Linked DNA regions of Homo sapiens: region 1 is linked to region 2. A link means that fine-mapping ties the variant in region 2 to the plasma level of a protein whose gene starts in the linked region. Region 2 holds a variant in brackets. A gene starts in the other region. All regions are shown on their reverse strands.

Evidence for each region. A credible set is the group of variants that fine-mapping cannot tell apart. PIP is the posterior inclusion probability: the model's chance that the variant is causal. Protein levels are from antibody-based Olink assays in UK Biobank. Linkage for the fine-mapping came from a reference panel and not from the study's own genotypes, which makes the PIPs less certain.
Region 1: IFIT3 starts here. The variant in region 2 is the best candidate, but not a certain one, in a credible set for the plasma level of the IFIT3 protein (UK Biobank, PIP 0.76).

Annotation. Positions count from the first base shown.
Region 1 is chr10:89,326,110-89,330,499 of GRCh38, reverse strand. IFIT3 (interferon induced protein with tetratricopeptide repeats 3) reads right to left here and starts at 2,503. Exons shown (of 2, transcript NM_001549.6): 1 at 2,422-2,503. The coding sequence starts at 2,426. It also overlaps a transcript of LIPA not described here. RefSeq lists enhancers at 215-274, 2,496-2,735 and a silencer at 2,126-2,175.
Region 2 is chr5:139,471,863-139,476,202 of GRCh38, reverse strand. It overlaps SMIM33 (small integral membrane protein 33), which reads right to left. Exons shown (of 2, transcript NM_001365197.1): 2 at 2,503-3,671. The coding sequence ends at 3,282. It overlaps STING1 (stimulator of interferon response cGAMP interactor 1), which reads left to right. Exons shown (of 8, transcript NM_198282.4): 8 at 1-670. Among named protein-coding and RNA genes, the nearest start is that of SMIM33, 3.0 kb to the right of the region's middle. RefSeq lists enhancers at 1,040-1,561, 3,126-3,647. The variant T/G (reference allele first, on the strand shown) is at 1,585.

The DNA of each region.
Region 1 (4,390 bases), not on the chromosome of region 2:
GGCCCTTACTCTCCAGATAGGAAGCCCATCCCTGGCCCCCTCTCTAAAGTGAGCATAGTTGAAAGCATTAAGATCTTTCACCTTTTGGCCATTGGGCATAGAGTCAGATGATCAGCAGTAGAGTTTGGTGCCTCCATTAATGACTCTGCTCTGACACCTGCTCTCTATCTGATGTCTTGGGCAAGTAATTTGCCCTTCTAAGCCCCATTTTGGTCATCTAGAAAATGAGGCTAATAATAGAAATAATAGCTCTTACTTCCTAGGGCTGTTGGAAGGGTGATATGAGGTCATGCGTAAAACGTGTTTAACACAGTGCCCACTTGTCAGGCCTCTGAGCCCAAGCTAAGCCATCATATCCTGTGACCTGCATGTACACATCCAGATGGCCAGTTCCTGCCTTAACTGATGACATTCCACCACAAAAGAAGTGAAAATGGCCTGTTCCTGCCTTAACCGATGACATTATCTTGTGAAATTCCTTCTCCTGGCTCATCCTGGCTCAAAAGCTCCCCTACTGAGCACCTTGTGACCCCCACACCTGCCCACCAGAGAACAACCCCCCTTTGACAGTAATTTTCCTTTACCTACCCAAATCTTATAAAATGGCCCCACCCCTATCTCCCTTCCCTGACTTTCTTTTCGGACTCAGCCCACCTGCACCCAGGTGAAATAAACAGCCTTGTTGCTCACACAAAGCCTGTTTGGTGGTCTCTTCACACGGACTTGCATGAAACCACTAACTACAGATCACAAAGAAATGTTACCACCATGATTGCTGGTACTAATATATTTGTGTTATAATTTTAAGTGAATTTGTGAGTGTGTAAAGGGAGCAACAGAGTTCCTCAGTGGATGGGGCAGAGGAGGATGCCCATCAGCTGGCACGTGCCAGTGAGTTCTCCAGGTGATTTTCCCATTTGGAAATTTTTAGCACAACTGGGGAGGAGCAGCCCAATCTCTTCCTGTTCCTATAGCCTCTGGAAATAGGAGCACCTTGATGTGAACCTGAGTCCAGCATAGTTCAGAGAGCCCCCCTCAGACCTCCTCAGGTCAGTGGCTATAGACACACCTAAAGACAGGACCCTGTAAAACCTTTCCTGCAAGCTGGCTACTAAGACGCCTTGCTCTCTGGTCAATCCCACTCACACAGACACAATTAACATCACTCTTGACCAGGAACTTATTCTATATAAAAGGGTATTCTATATACTGAGGTATTTGGCAGTGAATTCCTCTTACCCATCTCATCCCCAAACATGACATTGCAGAGCATCTTCAAGTCCTTGGGGCAGAGTAAGGTAGGGAATCCAGTTTTCCTTTTCTGCCCCCCTGAATGGTCGATGGGGTCTTCCCTCCCTGGCAATCACCTCCTCACTCCTTTCCTAGAGATGCTTGGTGGGAAAGGCATCCTTTTCTCTTAGTTCTCCCTAACATGCTATCCCCTGAAGAACTCCAGGAGGTCAATATATAAATTTAAAAATCAAGTTTACTGAGATTATGCTTTATATACAATAAGATGCACCCATTTTCAGTGTATAGTCTGATGAGTTTTGGTAAATGTTTATGCATATGTAGCCACCATCACTACCTCCCTATAGACTATTCCTATGATTCTAAAAAGATTCTTTTGGGAGCCTTCCTACTCAATCCCCACCATCTCCAGGCAACCACTGATCTGCTTCCCACCATTAGAGATTAGACTAGTTTTAGATAATAGATTAGGTCATTACACTTTTGAGGAGAAATTCTTTTTTTGCTGCTGACCAGCATTCACTACATCAATAAAAATAAATGCTAAGCTTTGGGTTTGTTTTTATATAAGAAATGACAAAAATGCCCATTTGTAAGAATTGTTTCTTCCACTTCCCACCTTAAAGTAATGCAACGTTTCAGGGCAAAATTGCCTTCTTCATGAGTGGGTTTGCAGTACTGATTGTATCTTTCACAATATCTGTTGAAAATAAATTCCTCCTTTTAAAATTACAAGAAAAAAAGCCTGTGACTTAATCTTTTCAAACAAAATGACAATAACAGAAAAACCCAAAAGAGTAATTCCCTTAGGTCTACCCTTGAATCAGCCAAGTTTGTGGCTGAGTGAAATACACCGCTCCTGCCAAGCCTTCCTCTCATTGCAGGAAATAGCTGCACACAGGGAGGAAACATGAGCTGATGCATTCCCCACCCTGCCTCCCCCCATGTAGTTCCGTAGGGAACCATTCCAGAAACTTAAGAAGCCTGTGTGTACACCAAAAAAAGCCACAGGGAAAAACCCCTCAAACATCTTACAAATGCTCAGACTGATAAAGACATATTGAATCTATAAACATCAGGACAATTCAGGAATGTGCCTGCACAGTAAGAAACTCAACTTACAATTTGCACTCAAAAACAAGCATGATTATGCATTCTTATTTCACTGACCTCATGACTGCCCTCTGTGTCTCTGCTGTTCCGAAAAGCTGGTGACCAGGCTGATTTGTTCTTCAGAAGTCTTCCTGTCTGCCTCAAGTAAATACTGAAGGAACTATATAAAGGGGTGGGAGAGTAGGGCACGCATCAGCTGATGTTTTCTCCGTTTTTGAGTAATTGCTTTTAGGGGAAGGAAGAGGAAACTGGAAAGTGAAACTAATTTAAAATCGTTGGGAGGAGGAAAATGAAACCTAACGGCTTGAGACCTGCAATGGCTGAGCCAGAGTACGTTATTCAAAACTGTGACTAAAATTTGTTTGAGAGAATGTGGAAGCATTCCTAATGTAAACCAAAAAATTAAATTCTAAGGCCATACTCACCAACCATGTGACTGGACCCCTGCTTTTGGCCAAGGGCATTCCAAAGTTAACCTGAAAACTGATGTGAAGGGGAAGCTGGATATGCCTCATTACATCCTTTTTCCTTTTGGAATTACTAATAGAACACACTCTTTTTTTGTTTTTGTTTTTGTTTTTTTTTGAGACAGAGTCTTACTCTGTTGCCCAGGCTGGAATGCAGTGGCATGATTGCGTCTCACTGCAACCTCTGCCTCCTGGGTTCAAGTGATTCTCTTGCCTCAGCCTCCCGAGTAGCTGGGATTACAGGCACCCACCACCATGCCCGGCTAATATTTGTATTTTTAGTAGAGACGAGGTTTCGCCATGTTGGTCAGGCTGGTCTTGAACTCCTGATAGCAGGTGATCCAACCACCTTGGCCTCCCAAAGTGCTGGGATTACAGGCATGAGCCACTGCACCCAGCCAGAACATGCTCTTTTTAAGTGTATTAAGAAACATTTACAACCTATTCTCTCTGAAGCCTGCTACTTGGAGGCTTCATCTGCATAATAAAACCTTGGTCTCCACGACCCAGACATTCCTTTCTAATGATTGTCTATTGAATTTCTATTGGATGTCTCCAAACATTCCTTTCTATTGATAATAACTCTTTCAACAAATTGTCAATCAGAAAATCTTTGAATCTGCCTATGACTTGGAAGCTGCCCCGCTTCCCTGTTTCCAATTGTCCCACCTTTCTGGACCTAGCCAATGTACACCTTACATGTATTGATTGATGCCTTATGTCTCCCTAAAATGTATAAAACCAAGTTGTGGCCTGGCACATGTTCTCAGGATCTCCTGAGGGCTGTGTCACAGGCCATAGGTCATTCATATTTGGCTTAGAATAAATCTCTTCAAATGTTTTACAGAGTTTGACTTTTTTTGTCAACATTAGGTATCTGACCATCAGTCTAGGGTGGGGCCCAGGAAACAGCATTTTTTAAGCCAATTCTTATTATTTTTAAAAATTTTTTGTGGACACATAGTAGATATATATATTTATGGGGTACATGAGATATTTGATGCGAGCATACAATGAGTAATAATCACATCAGGGTAAATGACTTCAAGCATTTATTCTTTGTATTACAAACAATCCAATTATACTCTTTTAGTTATTTTGAAATGTGCAATAAACTATTGTTGACTATAGTCATCCTCTTGTTCTAACAAACACTAGATCTTATTAATTCTATCTAAGTATATTTTTGTACCCATTAACCATCCCCACTTCCCCCGCTACTACTCTTCCCAGCCTCTAGTAATCATCATTCTAATCTCTATCTCCATAAGTTCAATTGTCTTAATATTTTTAGCTTCCACAAACAAGTGAGAATATGTAAAATTTGTCTTTCTGTGCCTGGCTTAATTCACTTATAATGACCTCCACTTCTATCCATGTTGTTGCAAATGACAGGATCTCATTCTTTTTATGGCTAAAGAGCACTCCGTTGTGTAAATGTACCACATTTTCTGTATCCATTCTTCTGCTGATGGACACTTAGGTTGCTTCCAAATCTTGGCTATTGTGAATAGTGCTGCAATAAACATGGGAGTGCAGATATCTCTTTGATGTACTGA
Region 2 (4,340 bases):
CTCTTCAGTGGCTGAATGTCCAGCAGAGCTATTTCCTTCCACAGGGGGCCTTGCAGGGAAGGGTCCAGGACTTGACATCTTAAGATGCGTCTTGTCCCCTTGGGCCAGTCATTTCCCCTCTCTGAGCCTCGGTGTCTTCAACCTGTGAAATGGGATCATAATCACTGCCTTACCTCCCTCACGGTTGTTGTGAGGACTGAGTGTGTGGAAGTTTTTCATAAACTTTGGATGCTAGTGTACTTAGGGGGTGTGCCAGGTGTCTTTCATGGGGCCTTCCAGACCCACTCCCCACCCTTCTCCCCTTCCTTTGCCCGGGGACGCCGAACTCTCTCAATGGTATCAACAGGCTCCTTCGCCCTCTGGCTCCTGGTCATGTTCCATTATTGGGGAGCCCCAGCAGAAGAATGGAGAGGAGGAGGAGGCTGAGTTTGGGGTATTGAATCCCCCGGCTCCCACCCTGCAGCATCAAGGTTGCTATGGACTCTCCTGCCGGGCAACTCTTGCGTAATCATGACTATCTCTAGGATTCTGGCACCACTTCCTTCCCTGGCCCCTTAAGCCTAGCTGTGTATCGGCACCCCCACCCCACTAGAGTACTCCCTCTCACTTGCGGTTTCCTTATACTCCACCCCTTTCTCAACGGTCCTTTTTTAAAGCACATCTCAGATTACCCAATGTGAGTGTGTCGTCTTTTTCCTGCTGGACTCTGACCGATATAACAGATGGGAATTACTGTCCCTAATGTCCAAACCTGCCTGCACATGCATGCCTCCCTGCACCCCTCCTCATCTTGGTACAGGGCAGCAGGGTGCTGCGTGTCATTTACCATCTGGACAGAGCCTACCAGTTGGGCTGAGGGCACCTGTCCTTTCAGTGCCTTTCTCTTCAGTGAGAGGCTTGGGGAGCAGGGACCATAGGCTGGCCTGAGCCAGCACACAAATGATGCCATGAAGGAACACAGCTGTGTCCTGGGCAAGGGGCCACTCAAAGGAGCAGGTGTCACTATAGGTGCCAGATGAGAGAGCCTGCAAACGGACAAGGGGGAAAGAGTTTGTGTGATGAGATGGGACAGTCCCTGGAGGGCCTTGGACAGCACAGCCAGCTGCCGTGCCATACCTTCCACCATCACGGTTACAACTGAGCCACTGATTCAACACTGTGGTGGCACAGCTGTCCCCATCTGGGAGGGAAGGCAGCCCATCTCTGTTAGTTCCATTTGTCTCACCAAGCTGGGCTCCTTCCCTCCCTCCCACCTTTTTTTTTTTTTTTTTTGAGTTGGAGTTTCGCTGTTGTCACTCAGTCTGGAGTACAACGGCACGATCTCAGCTCACTGCAACCTCCGCCTCCCGGGTTCAGGCGATTCTCCTGCCTCAGTCTCTTGAGTAGCTGAGATTACAGACATGCACCACCATGCCCGGCTAATTTTGTATTTTTAGTAGAGACGGGGTTTCGCCAGGCTAGTCTTGAACTCCTGACCTTGGGTGATCCTCCCACCTTGGCCTCCCAAAGTGCTAGGATCACAGGCATGAGACACCGTGCACTGTGCCTGGCCTGTTTTGGTTTTTTTTGTTTTGTTTTGTTTTG[T/G]TTTTTTTTGGTCACAAAGGCTCAATATACATTTCTGAGTACAGCATCACTGTGGAGAAATGCTCCACACAGACACACATGGGTTAGAAGGAACTGGCTGCCCCTAAGAACGGCAGAGCCAAGGGAGTCAAGGGGGAACAGTCCCCACTCTCCCTAAGTATCCCACCCTGTCCTCAAGGCCTGAAGATCCTCCATCATCACACCAGTGGCTTGTATACTAGAAACCAGCCCAGAATCAAAGGCCTTTCCAATCCATCCAGTAACTGTCATGGGGCTTAGGCTGTGGAGTCTGATGGCCCCAGCTTCAAATCCTGACTCCACCACTTAGGACCTGTGTCTACTTAGGTATCTTGATAACCCTCAGTTTCCCCAAGTGTAAAACGGGGATAGCAGTGGCCCCTCCCCTGGAGGTTGTTGTGAGGAGTGAATGGTATCATATCTGTAGGTCCACAGAGAAGCCTGGTGTCCAGCACTTAGCTGACCCACAACAAGGGGCAGCTATTAACACTTTAGCTGCCTCTCCCCAATCCCAAAGGAGGCAAGCCTGCCCTCTGCACACACTGCAATCCCCACCTCTGTTCCTTTTTATATTCTGTTATTTCCCAGCCTCCCTGACTGTGGTGGGGTCTTGCCAATGCCCCCAGGGGACTTCTTGTCCCCAGGAGTTCCCCAGGGTAGAGCACCAGAGGTCCTGCCATAAATGTCTGTCTGCGTGTTCTTGACTGCAGATGAGTAAGATTCAGAGGTGCTGGGGAAGGCAGTGCCACCAGCAGGCACTGAGCCACCAGGAGGCCCAGTTTTGTCTTCCTGGCTTCTGGATGCATCATCCTGACCCCCCTGCTGATTAGACCCAGGCACTCCCACAGCTGGGAGTGGTCCCCACCCCACTCCTTCCTTCCCAAAACAAGTTCCATGGAGCTCCTTTTCCTTTCCTGTTTTCTCATCAGCCGGAAAGATCTGGGAAATGTCCTGTGGTACATTCTAGGCTTGTTCCAACAGGCCCAGGCACACAGAAAGTGGGAGGCAATGAGAGGCTCCCAAATTCCCCCATCCCTTCTGGAGAGGCAAGACAGAGTCAGTGGGGGCCTTTGAAAGCCAATCTTTGAACTATAAATTGTGCTTGGGCTTACAAGGACTTCGGAGCTTGTCAACAAGGTCTGGGCCCTAACAGCCGAAGGACTGCCCCTGACTGACTGCCCCAAGGAGAACAGACGTTCGTCACTTCCCTAAGACCAGTGAGCCTAAGGGAAGGCAGATCCCAGCTTCTCCGCCTGGGCTCTCCCTGGCTGGCCTTTGTAGGATGAGGGCCTCTCCACGGGGCCTCTGACATTCCTGCTTGTGGGGAGTTGGATTCACATTACAAAGGAAGGAGATTAAGCGTGCAATGAAGGGGCAGAGACTCAGAAAAGGAGATTCAGGGGTCTGGTGGTCCCTGAAGAGGAGGGAGGGACTTTGTGAGGTGGCCTTGGGCCCTGGGAAGGCCCCCCGCAGCATGTTTCTGGGCAGGGCCCTCAAGTTTTGATTTCTCTTGCCCACCACAGGGCTCTCTCTATAAATGTTCTGAGAGAGCAGCTCCAGCTGAGTCCAGTGTGCCCTTCCGACGCTCTGATGCCCAGGCTCCAATTTGCTTTTGCCCTAGTTCTCTGCCCGGTTTCTTGTTCTGAGCTAGGTCAGGCTAACTCTCCAAAGTCTCCCTCCTACAGACAAGTGACTTCATCGATGCTGGGCCTGGGTCCATCTGGCGCAGGGCAGGAGCCAGGGACAAGAGGGCCCGGTGGTGCTTCTTCAGGACTGTCTTGGGGGCCCAGCACCCGCCAGTGGATGAGGTAGATGCCACCATCTGGCTTTGGGGTCGGTGGCTCTGTAGGGAGAGTGGCATGGCCCTGGTGCAGCCTTGGCCCAAAATGGACTGCCACTATGATGCAGACTGCCAGCAGAACAAAGACAGCGACAATGACGGTGACCACAGGCAGCCCGTCAACTCGAGGTTGTTCCCAGGTGCCACTTAGCACCTCCGGAAGCTGCCTCTGGGGCTCCTGCTCTGATGAACTGTTCACAGCTGGAGAAGGCCAGGAGTAGTGGCCAGCCTGGGAGGAGAGTGGCAGAGAGAGAGGGTGACATGGATGTATACACACAGAAAAAGACCAAAATAGAAAGAGACAAACACCCAAAGGAACCTGAGGCGGGGGGTTGAGGGCGGGAGGGACCAGAGACAAAGACAGAAAGACAAAAAGTCAGAGTAAAGACCTGGAGAGAGGCAGAGAATACAGAGGTAAACCACATGGCAGCAGAGACGATCAAAGAAAAAGGCAGAAAAGGCAGAGGGGGATACAGAGAGGGAGAAAGAAAGAGGAAAGGGGAAAGAAAAAGGCACATAAAAACAGACAGAAATAAAGATACAGACAGAGACAGAGAAAAAAGAAACAGATGCAGGGAGACAAAGACATTCAGACAGGGTCAAAGAGAGTGCTGGCTTCATCACAGTCCAGCGTATACAGTTTGGCCCCCCAAGTTTCCTCCCACTGTCCCCTTTTCCCAGGTCTCCAGCAAAATTCCTAAATAGATCCTGTGCCCTGGGTCGGGAGTCTTGGCACGCTATGGGCTGCTGTCCCCACATCCTAGGCAGTGGGCAGAGAGCACCTGCTTCTTAAAGTCCTGGGGAAAGGGGGTCCTTGTCCAGCATTTTAGGCTCCCCTTACTCCCCACTCACACAGAAGACAGACAGGTGGTGCCCTGGCGGCGGGAGAGGTAGAGGT